Regions from separate parts of the Homo sapiens genome. Here region 2 is linked to region 1. The links come from fine-mapping of genetic effects on gene expression. A gene starts in region 1. The other region holds a variant in brackets. All regions are shown on one strand. Distances are between the middles of the regions.

Region 1 (4,393 bases):
CCACTGCACTTCAGCGGAGGAGACAGAATGAGACTCTGTCTCAAAAAATACACAAATGAATAAATAATAAAAACCTTCCAAAATCTTGCCAGAATAATACCAACAAATAGTGAAACTTAAAATGTGACTAAATCGACTTTTCAAGTTCACAATGTGCCCATGGCTAATCAATACATATGCACAGTAGAAAGAAAATGAAGTCTAATAATGACCACTCTTGCCTAGACAGGGAACTAAGTGTGCCTGGGCACAGAAGGCAAAATAATTTGGGAAAAGTAAGCAGAAGGAGCAGAGTCGTATGTTGGGAAACTAGAATCCAATACAATTTATCAAAGAGTACTGAAACTTGGAATGTGACCAATTCCACTCAGGCAATAACCAAAGCAGGTCAGATGGGAGCCAAAATATTTTCCATGCTTGAGAAAATCAAGGCTTTTACAATATAAATGAATACTGGGCTGCTGTGGAAGGTTTGTTGGTCTTTGTTGCTTTGTTTTGCTTTCTTTTAACGGGGGTGGGGGGAGGTACCAGTCTCCTTTGAGAATCTGAAGAAAGCAAAGGATTCTCCTAAAAAAATGTACATAGTCACAAGATTTTGAGGAAAAATAAGACATGTCCAACCCTCCGGAAATCCATTCAGAGTCAGGAACCCCTAATTTAAAAATAAGGGATAACTGCCAGGAAAGGAGAAGCTCTAAACTGAAAACACAACACCTCCAGTAGAGTTAGGAATAGGAGGCGGGTGCTTGGCAGGTGAGTTTGAAGATACTTGTTGAGAGCATACGATATACCAGCATTGTCCAATAAAAATATAATGTGGACCACATATAAAATTTTAGTGGCCACATTATAAAGTAAAAACAGCAGAAATCTTAACATTTTATTAACCCCAAGTACTCAAAATATTACCTTTCCAACATTTAATCCATATAAAATGTATTAATCAAAAAGTTTTTTCAAAATCTGGCGTGTATTGTACACTTACAGCACATTTAGGGTGACCAACCTCCTGGTTTCCCTGGGACGGAGGGGCTAAAACATAGGACTTTCAATGCTAAAACAGACAATCGCAGCAAACCAGGACAACTGGCAATTCTATCATCTCAATTTGACGAGCCACATGCACTACACAGTACTGGACAGCAAAGTCATCCATCATGCATGGTGCAAAGTGGAATATACACATTATTCAATTTATTCTTCATAACTTGCCTAAGAGATGGATGCTGTCAGTTTCCAAATTGCAGAATAAAAGAAATAGAGGTTAAAGCTCTCACCCAAAGTCACACCAATAGGGCGAGGGTACTGGGCAATATAGTAGTAAGCCTGGGGCCTAAGAAATGTTATGAGTGAAGGAGCAGAGGTGAGAAGCTAGGAAAGTTCCAGAAAGGGGGACCAGCGAAAATGTGAGCAGTAAAGGCCCTTTACAAAGGGAAACAGAAGGATTAGGGGGAGAAGGAGAAGGGTGGCAGGGAGTATAGAAGAAAGGCACCCACAAATAGTGCAGTTTAGGAATGAAACAGGAAAAGTTAAAACTCACGGAGCAGAGAATGCCTCAGCGGACAAAAATGATGGGTGACAGAAAAGGGGAGGCGGATAGGAGTAAAGGGCAGTGGGGAGAAAGGTGAAAAGCGAAGGCAAGTGAAGGCAGAGATCACCGGGGAGAAAGAAAGGGCCTGGAAAGTTAAAAGCACTGGCCTAGGAGGCTGAAGACCGAGGGCGAGGAATTGCGGAGAGGGGGAAGAGGATTCAAATTAAATTATCCAGAACGGTAGGGAACTGCGTAGTTTCACCAGGTGTCAGGCACTACTTCATGAACGATCTCATTCATGGTCATGGGGCAGGTATCTGACATCCCCATTTTGCAAGTGATAGCACCAGAGAGGCGGAACCGAGCCGCGAAGGCCGCCCCGAACTGAGCCTCGCGCTCAAGGCAGGCCGTGGCCTGGGCCCAGGTCCCCGGAGGAGGCCGCGCCGCCCGCCGCCGCCGCGGGGGCAGCCAGGCCTACCTGTGCAGCGGCGGCAGGTCCTGCGCGTCGCTGGCGGGGTCAGGCGTGTTGGGGATGACGCCCAGGATGGTGCTTTGCAGCGACGTGCCCTTCAGAAGGCGGCTCCGCACCAGCTGCAGGTTGCGGGCCGAGTCCACGCTGGTGCGCATGGTGGAGCCGGGCAGCAGGACGCCCTCGTGGGTGAGCAGCAGCGGGAGGCGACTGGGGATCTGGATGGGGCTCACTGATGACATGCTGGCAGCCTTTCGCACTGGGGGCTGTCAAAAAGAGCCAGACAGACAGCTGCCCCCGGCCTGCCCCGCAGTCACCAAACCTCAGACCCGCCTCCACGCCTCCGCTTCCGGCTACGCGCTACGGTCCGTCCCCGGGCCCAAAAGCCATGGCTTCGCGCTGCTCTCTAGGAGAGCCTCCCGGTAAGACTTGAGCGTCCTACCTATGCGGAAAGACGTGCACTCAAGCGTGCAGCGACCTTCGCCTCACTTACAGAGTATATTTGGAAGGATGATCTTATTTGAATTGTATATACTTGAAGTGTTTTTAACGTTTTCTTCGATTTTTTACATATACTTGAAGTGTTTTTAACTTTTGATTCGAACTAATTATTTATTTATTTATTTATTTATTTATTCTGAGACAGATTCTCGCTCTGTCGCGGAGGCTGGAGTGCAATGGCGCGATACCCACGGCTTGCAGCCTCTGCCTCCCGGGTTCAAGCGATTCTCCTGCCTCAGCCTCCCGAGTAGCTGGGATTACAGATGCCCGCCACCACACCCAGCTAATTGTTGTATTTTTAGTAGGGAGGGGATTTCACCATGTTGGCCAGGCTGGTCTTTAACTCCTGACCTCAAGCGATCCGTCCACCTCGGCCTCCCAAAGTGCTGGGATTACAGGCGTGAGCCAACGTGCCCGGCCCGAATTGATTTTAGATGTACAAAACTACAGCAGAGTTCCTATATACCTTTCACCCAGTTTCGTCTGTTATCATCTTACATAATCATAGTTCAATGATCAAAACCAGGAAATTAACATTATTATCGTTTAACCTATAGGCCTTACCCAAATTTTGCCAGTTTTCCCACTAATGTCCTTCATTGGATCTGGTCCAGGATCCAATATCCAGGATCCTGTTGTGAAATCTCCTAGGTGTTTTGTTATGAAATCTCCTAGGTGTTCTCTAATCTGTGGCAAGTCCTCAATTTTTTTTTTTTTTTTTTTTTTTTGAGACGGAGTCTCGCTCTGTCACCCAGGCTGGAGTGTAGTGGCGAGATCTCGGCTCACTGCAAGCTCCGCCTCCCGGGTTCATGCCATTCTCCTGCTTCAGCCTCCCGAGTAGCTGGGGACTACAGGCACCCGCAACCACGCCCGGCTAATTTTTTGTATTTTTAGTAGAGACGGGGTTTCGCCATGTTAGCCAGGATGGTCTCAATCTCCTGACCTCGTGATCTGCCCGCCTTGGCCTCCCAAAAGTGCTGGGATTACAGGCCTGAGCCACTGCGCCCGTCCAATTTTTTTTTTTTTTACAACCTTGATACTTTTATTTTTTTTCTGTTTTTAATTTAATTTTATTTTTTATTATAGTTTAAGTTCTAGGGTACATGTGCACAACGTACAGGTTTGTTACATATGTATACATGTGCCATGTTGGTTTGCTGCACTCACTAACTCGTCATTTACATTAGGTATATCTCCTAATGGTATCCCTTCCCCCCCACTCCCCACCACCCAACGACAGGCCCCTGAGTGTGATGTTCCCCACCCTGTGTCCAAGTGTTCTCATTGTTCAGTTGCCACCTATGAGTGAGAACTTGCAGTGTTTTGTTTTCGGTCTTTGCGATAGTTTGCTCAGAATGATGGTTTCCAGCATCATCCATGTCCCTACAAAGGACATGAACTCATCCTTTTTTATGGCTGCATAGTATTCCATGGTGTATATGTGCCACATTTTCTTAATCCAGTCTATCATTGATGGACATTTGGGTTGGTTCCAAGTCTTTGCTATTGCGAATAGTGCCGCAGTAAGCATACGTGTGTGTGTGTCTTTATAGCAGCATGATTTATAATCCTTTGGGTATATACCCAGCAATGGGATGGCTGGGTCAAATGGTATTTCTAGTTCCAGATCCTTGAGGAATTGCCACACTGTCTTCCACAATGGTTGAACTAGTTTACAGTCCCACCAACAGTGTAAAAGTGTTCCTATTTCTCCACATCCTCTCCAGCACCTGTTGTTTCCTGACTTTTTAATGATTGCCATTCTAACTGGTGTGAGATGGTATCTCATTGTGGTTTTGATTTGCATTTCTCTGATGGCCACTGATGATGAGCATTTTTTCATGTGTCTGTTGGCTGCATAAATGTCTTCTTTTGAGAAGTGTCTGTTCATA
Region 2 (4,393 bases), 52 kb after region 1:
TTGGGCAAGGGAGTTCCCCTCTCAGATTAAGTTTCCTCATTTTATTAGCCTATTTGTGCTGCTGTAACAACATATATTAGACTGGGTAGTTTATAAAGAACAGAAATTTATTTCTCACTGTTCTGGAGACTGGGAAGTCCAAGATCAAGGTGCTGGCAAGTTTTTTGTCTGGTGAGGGCCCAGTATCTACTTCCAAGATGGCGCCTTGAACGCTGTGTCCTCCATCCCTGGAGGGGATAAATGTTGTATCCTTACATGGTGAAAGGGACAAAAAACCAGGAAGGCAGCTCTCTGAAGCCTCTTTTTTAAGGGCATTAATGCCACTCATGAGGGCTCCATCCTCATGGTCGTCACCTCTTAGAGGCCTCACTTTCTAATACCATCACCTTGGGAATTTGGTTTCAACATATGAATTTTGGAGAGACACATACATTCACACAGTAGCACTATTGAAAATGGGGATAGGAATTACTAATTCAGAAATAATGCATACATTTGGTACTATTCCTGGCATGTAGCACATAATAGTACGTACCACATAAAAGGTAACTGTTATTATTATTTATAAAACTGAACCTGCAGGACCTGCATAAGGTGAACTAACTTCTCTAGAACACTGCCCTGTGCCAGGCACTGGGCTGAGTGCTTCACACACATTATATCATATCATCTTCAGCATGGCTCTGAAGCTGGTAAGGTTATCACTATTTCATAGGTAAAGAAGTGGTATGTTGCTGACATTTGGTACCTTATCCAAGGTCACACGGTTTGGAAGTGGTGGAGCCAGGATTTGAACCCAGGGCTCTCTGACTTTGGAACCCAGCTCTTCCCATTCCTCCAAGGTGTCCACATTGGGTGGGGCTCAAGGGTTTCCAAGCACTCAAAGACAGAGATGGCCGAGCAGCTGAGTCAGCAGTTGCCTCGCACCTGTTTGTGGCACTTGTACATCACCACTGTCTCCCTCCCAGGTTACATGGTCTCTTGCATAATTTTCTTCTTCGTGGTGCTGATCGTCTTCTTAACGATCTTCAGCTTCTGGTGGCTGAGCTACTGGTTGGAGCAGGGCTCGGGGGTGAGTGCCATGAGGTGGATGGGCTGTGTTTCTATGGGCTTGAGTGAGGTGGGGTGACTTCTTGCTCCTTGAGACCACAAGAGCCAGAGCATGGCTTGGGACCCACATGACAAGCCCAGAGCTGGTGTTCCAGAGAGAACCGTGGGGAGCCAGGACTCTGGGGTTCCCCTGGCACAGGCCTCCTGACTTTGTAGAATGGGTGGTCGCCTGTGCAGTCTTACTGGAAAACCAAGAGATTTATATCCCCAGACAGTGCCCCAAGAATCTTTGCATTCCACTGCAGTAACTGTCTCCTTTAGCTCCAGGCTGGCCTCCATACTATGGTTTATTTAAAATATACTTCTGGTCTTGTGAGCTGGGAGCCACCACGGGCCACACTGTGTCAAGTTATTTCACTAATCTCCCCACCCACATTCAGAGGAAGGTTCCACTGTCTCCATTTTTCCAAGGGGACCCTGTGCCTAGAGAGGATGAAGAACCTGCCCTAGGACAGGACAGGGCCGGAACTTGAACTTGGTGCTTAGAATCGAAGCCATGCTTTTCCCACAGTACTCCATATGGTTAATTTCTGGATCGTGTACCAGGAGGTTTGGGTCAGGAGAGCAGAAGCCACTCTAAGTATTTAGAGCTTCCAAGGATTTAATATAGGGAATTAGAGGCTCAGTCAACCATTGGAGGGGAATTGGCCATCAGGGATCTCAGCTGAACTGAAGTGGGTGATTCCCAGGATGCCTTCCAGCCTCTGGAAAAACCCCACACCCCATGCTCCTGCCCACAGTTGCCACTGAGCATGCTGGCTTCTCCTCTTCCACCTTTCTGTTTCCCTGTGGGTGCCTCTCCTTGGCAGAATCTGACCTGAAACCATGCTGGGAGGGGTTCTGGGAAATCACGTTCCCAAGCTTCTCGCTGCATCACAGCAGAGCGTGCACAAGGGCCCAGCTGCTGCAGTGTCCACGGGGCAGACTCTGAGGGCCTGATGCAGGGCAGGGCAGTGGGAATGAAGGGCAAAAGAGAGTAGCCAAGCGCTGAGCAGGGAGGTTTGGGCAAACAGCTTCACCTTCTACCAGCCACAGATTCTCACGTGGCCCCAGGGAGAAGGCTTTC[C/T]CTGCCACTGAATTTCCCCCGGACACCTGCAGTCAGACCCCCTGTTCTTTCTTGAAGACCAATAGCAGCCGAGAGAGCAATGGAACCATGGCAGACCTGGGCAACATTGCAGACAATCCTCAACTGTCCTTCTACCAGCTGGTGTACGGGCTCAACGCCCTGCTCCTCATCTGTGTGGGGGTCTGCTCCTCAGGGATTTTCACCAAGGTCACGAGGAAGGCATCCACGGCCCTGCACAACAAGCTCTTCAACAAGGTATGGGCCTGGGTGCTGGGTGGGGCCGAAGGCTGAGCTCTGAACTTGCCCAGCTTCATTTTTATTTTTTTATTTTTTTATTTTTTAGAGCTCTGTAGCCCAGGCTGGAGTGCAGTGGCACAATCTCCACTCATGGCAACCTCCACCTTCCAGGCTGAAGTGATCCTCCTGCCTCAGCCTCCCAAGTAGCTGGGAGTACAGGCACATGCCACTAGATCTGACTAATTTTTGTATTTTTTGTAGAGACTGGGTTTCACCACGTTGCCCAAGGTGGTCTCAAACTCCTGGGTTCCAGTGATCCATCCACCTCGGCCCCCCAAAGTGCTGGGATTACAGGCATGAGCCACCACCCCCGGCCTATTTTTTTTTTATTAGTAGACCTTAATTATTTATTTATCTGTAGAGATGGGGTCTTGCTCTGTTTGCCCAGGCTAGTCTCAAAATCCTGGGCTAATGCAATCCTCCCACATTGGCCTCCTAAGTAGCTAGAATTACAGGTGTGAGCCACCATGCCCGGCCAACTTTATTTTATTATTATTTTTTATTATATTTTAAGTTTTAGGGTACATGTGCACATGCAGGTTAGTTACATATGTATACATGTGCCATGTTGGTGTGCTGCACCCAGTAACTCGTCATTTAACATTAGGTATATCTCCTAATGCTATCCCTCCCCCGTCCCCCAACCCCACAACAGGCCCCAGTGTGTGATGTTCCCCTTCCTGTGTCCTTGTGTTCTCATTGTTCATTTCCCACCTATGAGTGAGAACATGTGGTGTTTGGTTTTTTGTCCTTGCAATAATTTTCTGAGAATGATGGTTTCCAGCTTCAGGATTATAAATCATGCTGCTGTAAAGATAAATGCACATGTATGCACACGTATGTTTATTGTGGCACTATTCACAATAGCAAAGACTTGAAACCAAGCCAACTTTATTTTTTGAGCACTTTTCGTTTACAGAAAAATTGAGATGAAAGTACAGAGAGTTCTCATATACCTGCCTATCACTCAGGCTGGAGTGCAGTGGTGTGATCACAGCTTACTGCAGTCTCGACCTCCTGGGCTGAAGCAGTCCTCCCTACCTTAACCTCCGAGTAGCTGGGACCACAGGGGCACACCACCATGCCTGGCTAATTTTTGTATTTTTGTGGAGACAGGTCTTGCCATGTTGCGCAGGCTGGTCTTGAACTCCTGGGCTCAAGCCATCTGCCCATCTCAGCCTCCTAAAGTGCTGGGATTACAGTTGTGAGTCACTGCACCTGGCCCATTTCTCTTATTCTTAACATCTTGCATTAACGTGGGACATTTGTTACAATTGATGAGTCAATATTGGTACATTATTAATTACTATTATTAATGAATATCCATAGTTCACCTTATGGTGCATTCTTTGTGCTGTGCATTCTATGGGTTTTGAAAAATGTATAATGACATGTATCCATGGTACAGAATAGTTCCGCCGCCATAAACAAAACCCTGTGTCCCACCTATTCATCCCTCCCTCCCTACCCTCAAACTCCCAGCAACCACTGATCTTTTTTACTCTCTTCATAGCTTTGCCTTTTCTAAAATGTAGTTGCAGCTGGGTGAACCAGGCTGCTTGGTGAGAAGGGAGTGATGAAAGTGCGGTGGAGCTCTCCTGCTGGAAGTCTGGTTCTAAGAGCTCAGTGTCCCCTGATGGAGGGCCACAGTGACGCTGGCCTCCACTGGCTGAGCATGGTCATATACAGAGTTGCTTATGATTGCCCTGAGTTCTCTTTGAAGTGGATATTATCCTCATTTTACATATGAGGAAACTGAAATCTCACATATGTTAAAGTTGGAATATGTGTTTGGTTAGAATACTGAATTGTCAGCTGGGTGCAGTAGCTCACGCCTGGAATCCCAGCATTTTGGGAGGCCTGAGGTGAGTGGATTGCTTGAGCTCAGGAGTTCGAGACCAGCCTGGGCAACAAGGCAAA

What was found. PIP is the estimated chance that this variant, and not a neighbour inherited with it, causes the effect.
Region 2: its variant is the best candidate, but not a certain one, in a credible set for the expression of LONP2 in whole blood (TOPMed, PIP 0.64).

Annotation. Positions count from the first base shown.
Region 1 is chr16:48,242,238-48,246,630 of GRCh38, reverse strand. It overlaps LONP2 (lon peptidase 2, peroxisomal), which reads right to left and starts at 2,331. Exons shown (of 15, transcript NM_031490.5): 1 at 2,010-2,331. The coding sequence starts at 2,242. All of the region lies in intron 1 of ABCC11 (ATP binding cassette subfamily C member 11), which reads left to right. RefSeq lists an enhancer at 2,306-2,395.
Region 2 is chr16:48,190,558-48,194,950 of GRCh38, reverse strand. It overlaps ABCC11 (ATP binding cassette subfamily C member 11), which reads left to right. Exons shown (of 30, transcript NM_001370497.1): 19 at 969-1,072; 20 at 2,234-2,431. Among named protein-coding and RNA genes, the nearest start is that of ABCC12, 37 kb to the right of the region's middle. The variant C/T (reference allele first, on the strand shown) is at 2,177.